Linked DNA regions of Homo sapiens: region 2 is linked to region 1. The links come from fine-mapping of genetic effects on gene expression. Tissue or cell type: whole blood. Region 1 holds a variant in brackets; the other region holds the start of a gene. All regions are shown on one strand. Distances are from middle to middle.

Region 1 (5,365 bases):
ATCAACTATCACTATCATTTTAACTCTTAAAAAATAGGCAAGGCATAATCTCAGAATAAAAGACAGTCATGGCCGGGCACAGTGGCTCACGCCTGTAATCCCAGCACTTTGGGAGGCCGAGGTGGGCGGATCACCTGAGGTCAGGAGTTCAAGACCAGCCTGGCCAACATGGTGAAACCCTGTCTCTACTAAAAATATAAAAACTAGCCGGGCATGGTGGTGGACGCCTGTAATCCCAGCTACTCAGGAGGCTGAGGCAGGAGAATTGCTTGAAACCAGGAGACAGAGGTTGCAGTGAGCTGACACAGTGCCACTGCACTCCAGCCTCGGCGACAGAATGAGACTCTGTCTCAAAAATAACACAAAACAAAACAAAAAACAGAATAAGAGACAGTCATTCAATTGCAAAAAGAAACTAACACCATTGAACTTCTGTTTCCTGTTCCAACAGAGACCCTGGTGAAAATCTGGTTTCCCTTGGGGACCACTGTTCTCTCTGTCCCTTCTAGGTTTTCTCTTTTCTCGAGCATCTGCCCCAGGAGCCCTTGAGCCCGTCATCCTGAGTAATCAATCACTCAGGGGCAGCGCCTCAGAGGCAAGCCCCCCCCCAACCCCAATATCTTGAGAGGCTGGGACTGTCCCCTGGGCACAAAAATGTATCTGAATCTCTCTCACCCTGGTCCTATCCTGAGTCCACATTGAGCAGAAAGAGCCTTGGCTTCTGGGTAGACAGAAGTAAGCCTAAGATCTTTCTCTGTCCCCTCCAGCCAGCTTGTGACAAGTCACATCATCCCCCTGAGCCTTGGCTTCCTCATCTATAAAATGCGCTTCACAGAGCAGCCTTGCATGGTGTTTACAAGGATTCAGTGGGATGTTGTGTGCGAAGGGCCCGGCACAGAGTGGGTGCTTAGTCAATGCTCCGCCTGCTTTTCTCTCTTGCTCTTGAGGTGGCCGCATTTTCTCTCTGCCTGGGTGAAGTTAAAGAAATGTATGGTCTCTCCTTCTTCCTTCTGGGATTTGGGAGCAAATTCATGATTCCTTTGGCCAGATCAGGCTCTGGGTCTTTGTCCCAATCCCGCCAAGGACTTGCTGTGTGACCTTAACAAGTAACCACCCCCACTAGGACTCACTTTTTACAAACTATAAAATAAGGGGTTTGAGCTAATTAATCCCTAAGGACCTTCAAGACCCTGGTTAGGGTTGATTTGCAAAGACTTCCATTTTTTGGGAGGGATGGGGGAGAGCAAGAGGTGAGGTGTGGGGAGGGAGGAAGAATCCCACCCTATTTGAGGTCCTGGCAGTGGAAGGAGTACACATATGCGGGCCCCAGAAAATTTTAACATCAACCTAAGGGGCTTGATCCTATGCCTTCTCCCCAGAGGCTGGGATACTTGCCCTGATTGGCTGTGGGGGAGGGTGTCCTTCCTTCCCATAACATCTCAAGCTGCTTAGTAAGGCAAGAAGGCCAGGCACCCTGCCACTCTCTGGCGACCCTCCAAAATGCTTGTGCCTCTCGGTCAGAGCTGAGGCTTCAGTGTCTTCATTCTCAGGGCAGACTGCCTTGAACCCAATCCTAGGGACATTTCCCGTCAATCTGCCCCACACCCAGGAGCCACCTGACGCCTTGGGGCTATTCTGGGGAACTGAGGTGGGATCCAGAGCCTCTGGGAAATGTCGTCTGGAGCCTGGAGGCCCTGAAGCAGAGCTCCTCTCCCTCCTCCCCCTCGGGAAGGCAGAGCCATCCCAAGAGGCAATGCTCTGGGCAGGTCACACCAGCCCTGTTCTCTGCCCCTACCCGCAGCATCCCACTGGAATCTAGTTAAATCAGACATTGGGGGAAGCCTTGCAGGGGCGAAGTCCCATGGGCATGACTACAGGGTGGGCGGTCTCTGAGGGTGAAGGGGCCAGAAGGTCATTTCAGTGGATTATGGGGACAGGTCATGGGTCATCAGAGAGGAGTTATGAAGCCCTGTGAGAGGCTGGGAGGACGATAAGGGAGCCACACTGTGAAATGCCCACATTTCGTAACAGGAAGGTAACGAAACCTGTCTGAATTCAGTAAATCAGGAAATCGCAATAAGCATGAGAGAGGTTGCCTTAGGCAGCTGAGAAGAAGGGCTGGACAAGGAACTGCTGTCTTTCTTTAGAAACAGTGTGTTACTATTTTATTTGATTTTGTTTGTACTATGTCCAAATATTACATGAATAAAATGTTTCCATTTAAGAATTCATAATGAAATGAAGCAGTATAGACTGCACCATAATTTCTCTCCTAGCCCACGGCCCCACTGCTTTAATGGACTC[G/A]CCACAAGGAGTCCCAATGTAATGTCACCTTACGGCCTAGAGACGAAGGCCGCAGGGCTACCAAGGTGGGGAAATGGGCACTTCCTCTGGGAATGACCTTCAAGGGAGCAAGTCTTGTGTCTTTGACTTTGGGCTGGGCTTTTGGAAACAGCTTGCAGGGAGGTCAGCCTGGGTTCATTGCAGGGAACAGCAGAGAGCAGGCAGCCGGAGTCCGAGGCCCTGCTGAGAGCCTGGCTCTGCGTTCTGGGAACTTCGGTGGTCACTTCCCTGCTGCGGGCCTGGGTTTCCTCATCTGTATCGTTAGGGGGTGGGGGTGGTCACGCCTCCCCTGGAGTGGCCGAGAGAACACACCTTGGAAAACGCTGTGCAGCTGCAGAGCAGGATGCCCGCAGGGGAGAAATTTTTACCTTGAAAAGGACAGAGTGGCTCCCTAAAGAGGCTGGACCTGCGGCTCCTTCCGAGGGAGGAGTTTCAGGAAGCCAGCTCCCTGAAAGGCAGCATTCAGTGGACGTGACCGGCTGGAAAGTTCACAAAGGTCCAGGAACCAAAACCAGTATTATTCCTGCCCCTGCACCCCAGGCTCTTAGCCCCTGGTGGTACCGCCTTCCCTTCTTTCCCCTGGGGTCCTTATCCTGCACCAGCCTCCCAGATTACCAGCCCGATTTGCTGACAAGTGGCTTCTCTGAACCTGGGTTTGCTGCCCTGTGAAACGAGAGCAATGCTATTCATCTCATGGGACTGTGGACGCCTTGAGAGCAGGTGCTGTGCCTCCATTGCCCGTTGCCTGGTACAGCTCCCGGAGCAGTAGCTCCTCAGCAGTGAAATGTGGAGTGAATGCGATCGGAGGGAGGAGGTTACAAATTATGCCTTACAGCACCTAACTCACCGCACAGCTGCAGAGGCTGGGACACACAAGACTGCCTCTCTCAAGGGCCAGGCGCCCTTGCAGCCTCCTTCTAGACTGGAAAAGTCACATGCAGGTCTAGGGTATGCAGGCTATAGGCAAAGGGAGGACCTGAATGTGATCTCTGGACTCTGGGCTTGGTTGGCCCAGAGAAGGGTGACATCAGTGCACTTCGTGTGCCAGGACCCTCCTTTCCATGCCCTCCAGGCAGAGGGTGTGCCTGCCACGGGGACTAACCAGGAATGCATTCATTACCACCCAGCGCCCACCAGGTCCAAGTCATGCTCAGCGTGAGATGAGCCCACTCGGGCAGCTCTGGGGACCTGGAACGGGCACATGTCATGTGTGTGACACTCCCAACACCTTCCCAACCACATCCCTACTCGACCTCATCCGTCTCCAACTCAAGGCAATTTCGCCTCCCAAGGGACATTTGACAATATCTGGAGACATTTTTGGCTGTCACGACTGGGAGGGATGTTACTGGCATCTGGTAGGTAGAAGCCAGGAGTGCTGTTAAACATCCTACAATGCACAGGCTGCCCCCACACAAAGAGTTATTTGGCTCAAAAATGTCAGTAGTGCCTTCCATTGCAGCTAATGCATCTGCTGTAACCAGGAAGGGCCCCATGTTACAAGTGAGGAAACTGGGGCTCAGAGAGGTCCTCTAACCTGCCCAAAGTCACACAGCTTATAAGCAGAGAACCAGGGTCTAAACCCCACCTTGTCTGATACTAAACCTTTTCACTTCCCTACAGTCTCCACAAAGCCTGTCTCCATGGCAGGCCTAGGGATGCTGAGGGTCCCTTCACCAAGAGAAGGGATAAGTGGGGGCCTGGCCCTGGATCCTCCATCTAGACTCACAGGTGACCTCAGACCAAGAGGGGTTAGAGACAGCTTCCCACCCACAGTAAAACCCTCAGTCCTTGAAGGTGGGATCTAGCCCACTGGAAGTTCTGGGAGAGAAAGAGACACGCACACCCAGGTGCACATGTGCACACCTATGCGCATGCCCGGGTAGACTGAGAAAGGCAGTTTGGGAATGCTATCCCTGTTAAGTTTTCAGAATATGAACTATGAATCAGACCAACCGCACTGTGTACCCCAGTTCTGCTAGCGTCCCTATGTGATCTTGGGCATGCGACTTCACCTCTGAACTGAGGCATCCAGATCTGTGCAGCGAGGATCATTCCCCAACCCCCAGCCAGAACAATGAAGTGGTAGGAGGTCCCAGACCTCCCCGATGGCAGCTCTTGCAGCCGTAAGCTACGAGGTCCACACGGTGTCTGCTGACGGTCTCCAGTGGGTAGTGGGATGTTGAGGCAGGGGGTTGCATAAGATGACTTCAGCGAGGTCCTCTCTTTCCCGTGACCAAATGAATGGCTGAGACGCACCCAAATCCCACAGGTCTTCCTCTTGCCCCTGCCCTGCCCTGCCTGGCAGGCTCAGCAACTCACCCATGTCTCTTCTCCCCAGAGATCTCCCTGGATGTGGACGCAGACCGGGATGGTGTGGTGGAGAAGAACAACCCAAAGAAGGTACCTAGCTTTCAGGGCAGGCACCACCCTGAACCCAGGGCTTCCGAGGGCACAGCCCCAGATCCCGCAGGCAATTCCCATTTCACAGCTCAGGAGACTAAAGCCCAAGACAGGCTCCCAGACACACAGCATACCAATGATGGAACCCACAGAGGAGCTCAGGCATCTCCTAGAGACGGCAACAGAGCAGGCTCCTGAGTCTCAGTTTCTCCATCCCATGATGGGGACGCCCAATTCATGGAACTGCTGGGAAGGATAAATGTGCCCGCTACAGAGGAAGCACTGTGAAGGCATTTGCTCTTATTATTTTGCCTGTTCTTTTAAGACTAGGGAGGTGGGGGAGACAGACCCTCAGGACAGAGGGTCGCATTCATCATTCTCAGTTCCAGGCGTGGTATTATCTCTGCTGGTGCATGCACGGCCCCTCTCCTCTTTCTATTTATTCTTGCATTCATTCACCATTCATTCATTTGTTCCCTCGTTCATTTACTTATTTTCTTTTATCTTGCATTCCCCACTCCCATTCTGCTCCCCCACAGAGGACCATTTTGCTGGGTTTAATGTGTCTCTTTCTGCTCTGGTGACTCTCAGGAGGCATGTGGTGTGGTTGGTGTGCATG
Region 2 (5,365 bases), 21 kb before region 1:
AAAGCAGTAAGTGCCCGCTCTTACTCCAGCTCCCCTGGGTATTGCGGTCTGATGTTATCACTATCTTGCCCAGTGTCCTGTTATGAGCTGCCCGGGGTCTCCGTCAGTGGGGGGTACAGTGTCCTCCCCCACTCTGGCCCCAGTCTCCCCATGAGTCAAATGAAAGTTAGAGCCCCAGGAAGGTGAGAACCCTGGTGGGTGCCCGTTATCTGTCACACAGTAAGGGCTCCAAAGTCACTCGTGGCAGAGGGGTGCCCAGACACGAGCTCACCTCTGGGGGCGCCTCGAAGTCTCTCCAAGCTACACAAGTTTTGTCCCAGTTTGGCAGGTGGCCACCCGAGAGATTCCTCCTGATTGGAGGATGTGCTCAGCCGGGTGCCTGGAGTTCATCAGAAGTTACTGGCCTCGGCCGGGCGCTGTGGCTCACGCCTGTAATCCTAGCACTTTGGGAGGCCGAGGCAGGTAGATCACCTGAGATCAGGAGTTCAAAACCAGCCTGGCCAACATGGAGAAACCCCGTCTCTACTAAAAATACAAAATTAGCTGGGTGTGGTGGTGCCTGCCTGTAATCCCAGCTACTTGGGAGGCTGAGGCAGGAGAATCAATTAAACCTGGGAGGCGGAGGTTGCAATGAGCTGAGATGGCGCCATTGTACTCCAGCCTGGGTAACAAGAGGAAAACTCTGTCTCAAAAAAAAAAAAAAAAAACAGTTACTGGCCTCTCCCTGGGTCTGTGAGCTGTGCCTTTGGGGGACAAATGACCTCCTGGCTAAAACTCGGGCCTTCCCTCTTCCCCACTCACATTCCTCCCAAATCCCTGCCACTCAGAAGCAGCTGGGCTCTTCACCACCTCCTAATTTGGGCCGCCTCAGGGAGAAGGTTGGAGTCCAAGGGCTGGGTATATCAGCACTGGGCACTTGTGGGCCTCACCCCTCTTGTCTGGGGGCACCCGTTCCTGGAGCTCCATCTTCCATCAGCTCTAACTCCTTCCCAAACACACATCCCCTCCGCCCCACTCCTTCCCTCCCACGGCCTCTGCCCACCCCCCCTCAGTTTCTGTCCTCACCTACCAAAGACCACTTCCTCACACAGGGCTGATGTATGTGTCTGAACAGCACTCCCACTGGGTCCCAGGGGAAGGGCTGGGACATGGGAGGGGCTGGCCGAGGCCCACACTGATTGTCATCCTACATCTCAGCCTCTGTGAGACACACGATGACCTCTGGGTGGCACCCCCCTTCCCTTGGTGGCCCAGGCCAGAACCGGGGCCCTAATCCTTACCCCTCTCCTCTCCCTCCACCCACACATCCTATCAGTCACCAGGTGCCACCAAAATCCCAGTCCCTAAGCAGTGGCCGGGTCAGTCCCCACCTCTCCAGCTCTGGCCACAGCCAGGGGCTTCCTTGCCCCTCCCCAGCCCAGAATGACCCATTTCACGAGCACACCCGACCACGGCTCGCGGAGACAACCACTCCAGGCTCCCATCTCCCACCCTCCAATGCCTTGGCTTGGCGTCCTGGTCTCCCTCAGCTGCCGGGTTCCCCATCCCCACCGCTTCCCGTTTTCTCTATGGTGAGGTTCATCTGACTGTTGGGGGATGGGGGTACCGGGCTGCACCCGGCTTTGCACAGGCAGCTCCCTCTCCTCGCCTTTAATTTGCAAACGCCTCCTTTAAGAAGGTTCCAGGATCGTCTTCTCTGGGAAGGCTTCCTGGCCCCCAGGCTGGGTTAGGGCACCCTCTTTGTGTTCCCACATTTGCATTTTCAGCCCCACTGGGCTGGGGCGTCCGGAGGGGAGCTAGGGCCCTCCAACACCTGGGCGCCCACCGAAGGTTTGTCGAATGAAAGAATGACAATCCAACCATGGAAAGCACAAAACTGGTCCCTGATGACTTCGCCACGACCTCAGCGGGGCGGGACGAGTTAGGGGCGGGACCACGCTTGACGGACAGGCCCGCAGCCCACTGCGAGAGGACTGGGGCGGGCCGCCCCGCCCACCGGCCGCTGGATAAGGCTGCGCGCGGGGCCGTGGGGCGCAGGCTGCTGGAGAAGGCGCACCTGCTGCAGGTGCTCCCGGCCGCCCCGGACCAGCGAGCGCGGGCACTGCGGCGGGGAGGATGCTGCGCGAGCGGACCGTGCGGCTGCAGTACGGGAGCCGCGTGGAGGCGGTGTACGTGCTGGGCACCTACCTCTGGACCGATGTCTACAGGTGAGCCGGCCCACCGTGATGCCCGGGCCGAGATCTCGAGCCCAGAAATCCTGAGACGCGCTCAGACTCGGGGACGTGGACAGCCTTTGTCCAGCCCGAGTTGTCCCTCATCCCGAGCCCCCGAGCCCAGAAATCCTAAGAATCTCATCCAGAAACCTGACAACCCCCGAACCTTGTGTCCACCTTCCAGAAACCCTGAGACTCTCCCAGACCCCCTAACACAGCCTCAGCCCCAGCTCCCTCACAGACCCTCCCTTTCACCCGTAACCCTCCGTCTGGCCCTCTCCAGTTCTCCTCCCGGGGGACCTCACACCCCTTCAGCTTCCCTGCCGTCCTCTCCCCTTTCACTTCCCCTCCGCACCTCACTTCCCCTCGGACCCACCTCAACCCAGCCCCTCTCCTGCTTCCCACTCCCAGTTCAGCGGAGCTTCCGCGGAGACTTGCCGGGGACTGGGGCAGGACCCGAAGGGAGCTGCCCTGAGGCTGAATCCGGCCCTGGAGGTTACTCAGGCTCCGATTTCGCCCTGTGGGGGCTGCTGGTGGTTGCTTGTCCCCAGGCACTGGCCCTGAGCTCCGTGTCCCCAGATACCTTCCCCTGACTTCATTCTGAGACCACAGAGGGACAATATTCTACCCAGCTGACGACGGGGACTTGGGGTGTATAGCGGGGTACTTTGTTGGAAAAGGATCCTGATTCAGAGTTCTGCTCCCTCCCCTTCTCTCTGTCCAAGAACTTGGTAGAGTGCGGGATGTCCGAGACAGCTGAAGGTAGGGTAGGGCCCTACCACTCCCCCCGCAATCCCAGAAAGCAGCCAAGTCCAATGATCTGTCTCCCTGAGTAATGGGACGGGGCCTTGGAAAGGTGTGGCTGGTGTGAATGAAAGGGTGGGGTTATGCTGGGGTTTGATCTGCCCCCTCTATTCCAAGCATTTAAAACCTCCCCATTGCTAGGGTTGGAGGGGTCAGTGCTGGGGGCAGGGAGCATGCAGGACTCTGAGGTGGGACCCTGTGCTGACACCGGATGAGTCCCCTATCCTCTCTGCCTCAAGCTGAACTCACACGGAGGCACCATCGTGGTTTATGGCTCTCAAATCATCCTGACACCTGGAGCACCCTGCCTCTCCCAGGCCCCCACCAACCCATCATGTGTCTCCCCACACAGCCCTGGCAGCCCTCCCACCTGCCCAACCAGTCTCCTGCCACCGCTGCAGAGGCACTGGCCACGCTGATACCAACAAGCCCCAGGACTAGGGACCCACTCCATGCCTCTGTCCCTGGCCTCAACCTCTGCCTTCCCCTGGGCCTGGGCTTCAGTTGTCCCCCATGTAAACCTCAGAGGTGGACTGGGTGGTCTCTGAGAACAAGAACACAGCAGTGGAGGGTGGTCCAGGCTCTGGTGGGGTGCAAGAGCTCCCCTGCCTTCCCCACCCCCAGCCCTGAACTGGGCACCGCTAGGGAGTGGGCGCGGAGCCAGAGTGCTCAGGTCTCTAAGCCTCAGCTGTCACCATACCCACCTGTTTATTTGCTGGGGCATGGTTGGTGCCGCCTGAAAAGCTGGCATGATCCTCCCAGTCGGGGGTGGGGAGCAAAGGAGGGTTCCTGCTCAGGCGCCCTGCTATCGCTCTATCCTGGCAAAGAGAGGCCCAGCTGGGGTAGGGGCACAGAGTGGGGCAGATATGGACTCAGCCTCCCTCTAGCAGGGGGCAGCAGTGTGACGATTCCCCTTGTCCTGTCTCAACGACCACAAAGACCCTAACCCCCACCGGCACTTAAGGTTCTCCACCACCACAGAGAGGGGCAGTGCGCTCTAGACCAGTACTGTCCAGAAAAGTCCAGTTTGAACCACAACAAAACCACAATTGCATTTTAAATCTTCTAGTAGTCCACACTTTTTTAAAGTTAAAACAACAGGCATAATTTTAATAATATATTTTGTTTAACCCAATATTTTAGAATATTATCATTTCAACATGCAATCAATATAAAAATTATTAAGGAAATGGTTTACCTTCCTTTTTTCATGCTAAGTCTTTGTAATCCAGTGCACATTTTACACTTCAGCACATCTCAGCGTAGATTGAGTGCATCTCAGGTGCTCACTGGCCACCGTGAGCCAGTGACACCGGGACAGAACAGGTCTAGTGCAGAGTTTCTCAATCTCGCACTATTGCATTTTGGGCTCGATATTTCTTTGTTGTAGCGGGATGTTTAGTGGCATCCCTGACCTCTGTCCCCTAGATGCCAGTAGCAACCCCCAAATTGTGACAACCAAAAATGTTGCCAGACAGTGCCAGCAGTCCCCTGGCAGGGGGCAAAATCACAGCCAGCTGAGACTCACTGGTCCAGTGGAAGGAAGCCTCTTCCAGGACTAAGGAGCTTGAGTTGTTACTGCTATTGTGACTCGAGTTACCTGTAGTAATGAGAGCAACTGCCAGTATTGATAACAGGAGGAGGTATTAGTGGGCACTTAGGAACTGAACCCACCACCTCCTTTCTTCCTCACCATAGACCCTGGAGGGTTCATTGATCATCCCATTTTACAGATGAGGAAGGTAAGGCTCAGAGAGATGAAGCCATTTGTCCAGAGTCACACAGGACTCAGGTCCAGGTCTGTTTGACTCAGAACTCATGCTCTTATACCCCACTCTGTCCTATGTGACCCTAAAACCAGCGGGTTGAACTGGACGGCCCTCTCAGCCTGTGTCTCTTCCACCCTGGCCACGAGCCCACTGTCCCCAGAGACTTCACCAACTCCCATTTGGCCCTCCACTCTTCCCTGAGTCCTTTGCTGCCCGGACACAGGTCCTGGCTCAAGACCCCAAGTGATGCCCCCAGAGCCTCCAAGTAGACCCCAAGGAACAAGGCCCGGGGGTGCTGGGCCCAGTTAATTACGGAGTGGCATCCTGACCCTCACTCCTTCTGAGTCGCAAAGGTGAGCGAAACGGCCTCAGCACCCACTCCCTTTCCCAAGGGCTCTGGACTCCCTTTCCTGTGATGCTGGCACACAGGATCCCCTCCAGACACATAGCAGGGGCCTCCCCAGCCTCATTCCTCAATAGACCTTGTGGTCCTGGCAGGCACTGCCCTACCAGCTTCCATCCACGGGCTGTGTGACCTTGAGCAAATCGCTTCACTTCTCTGAGTCTCCACTGACCCAA

What was found. PIP is the estimated chance that this variant, and not a neighbour inherited with it, causes the effect.
Region 2: PADI2 starts here. The variant in region 1 is fine-mapped to the expression of PADI2 in whole blood (INTERVAL, PIP above 0.99).

What each region holds. Positions count from the first base shown.
Region 1 is chr1:17,095,290-17,100,654 of GRCh38, reverse strand. It overlaps PADI2 (peptidyl arginine deiminase 2), which reads left to right. Exons shown (of 16, transcript NM_007365.3): 4 at 4,685-4,746. Among named protein-coding and RNA genes, the nearest start is that of PADI2, 21 kb to the left of the region's middle. The variant G/A (reference allele first, on the strand shown) is at 2,305.
Region 2 is chr1:17,116,122-17,121,486 of GRCh38, reverse strand. PADI2 (peptidyl arginine deiminase 2) reads left to right here and starts at 2,036. Exons shown (of 16, transcript NM_007365.3): 1 at 2,036-2,207. The coding sequence starts at 2,116. RefSeq lists an enhancer at 911-1,445 and a silencer at 2,017-2,226.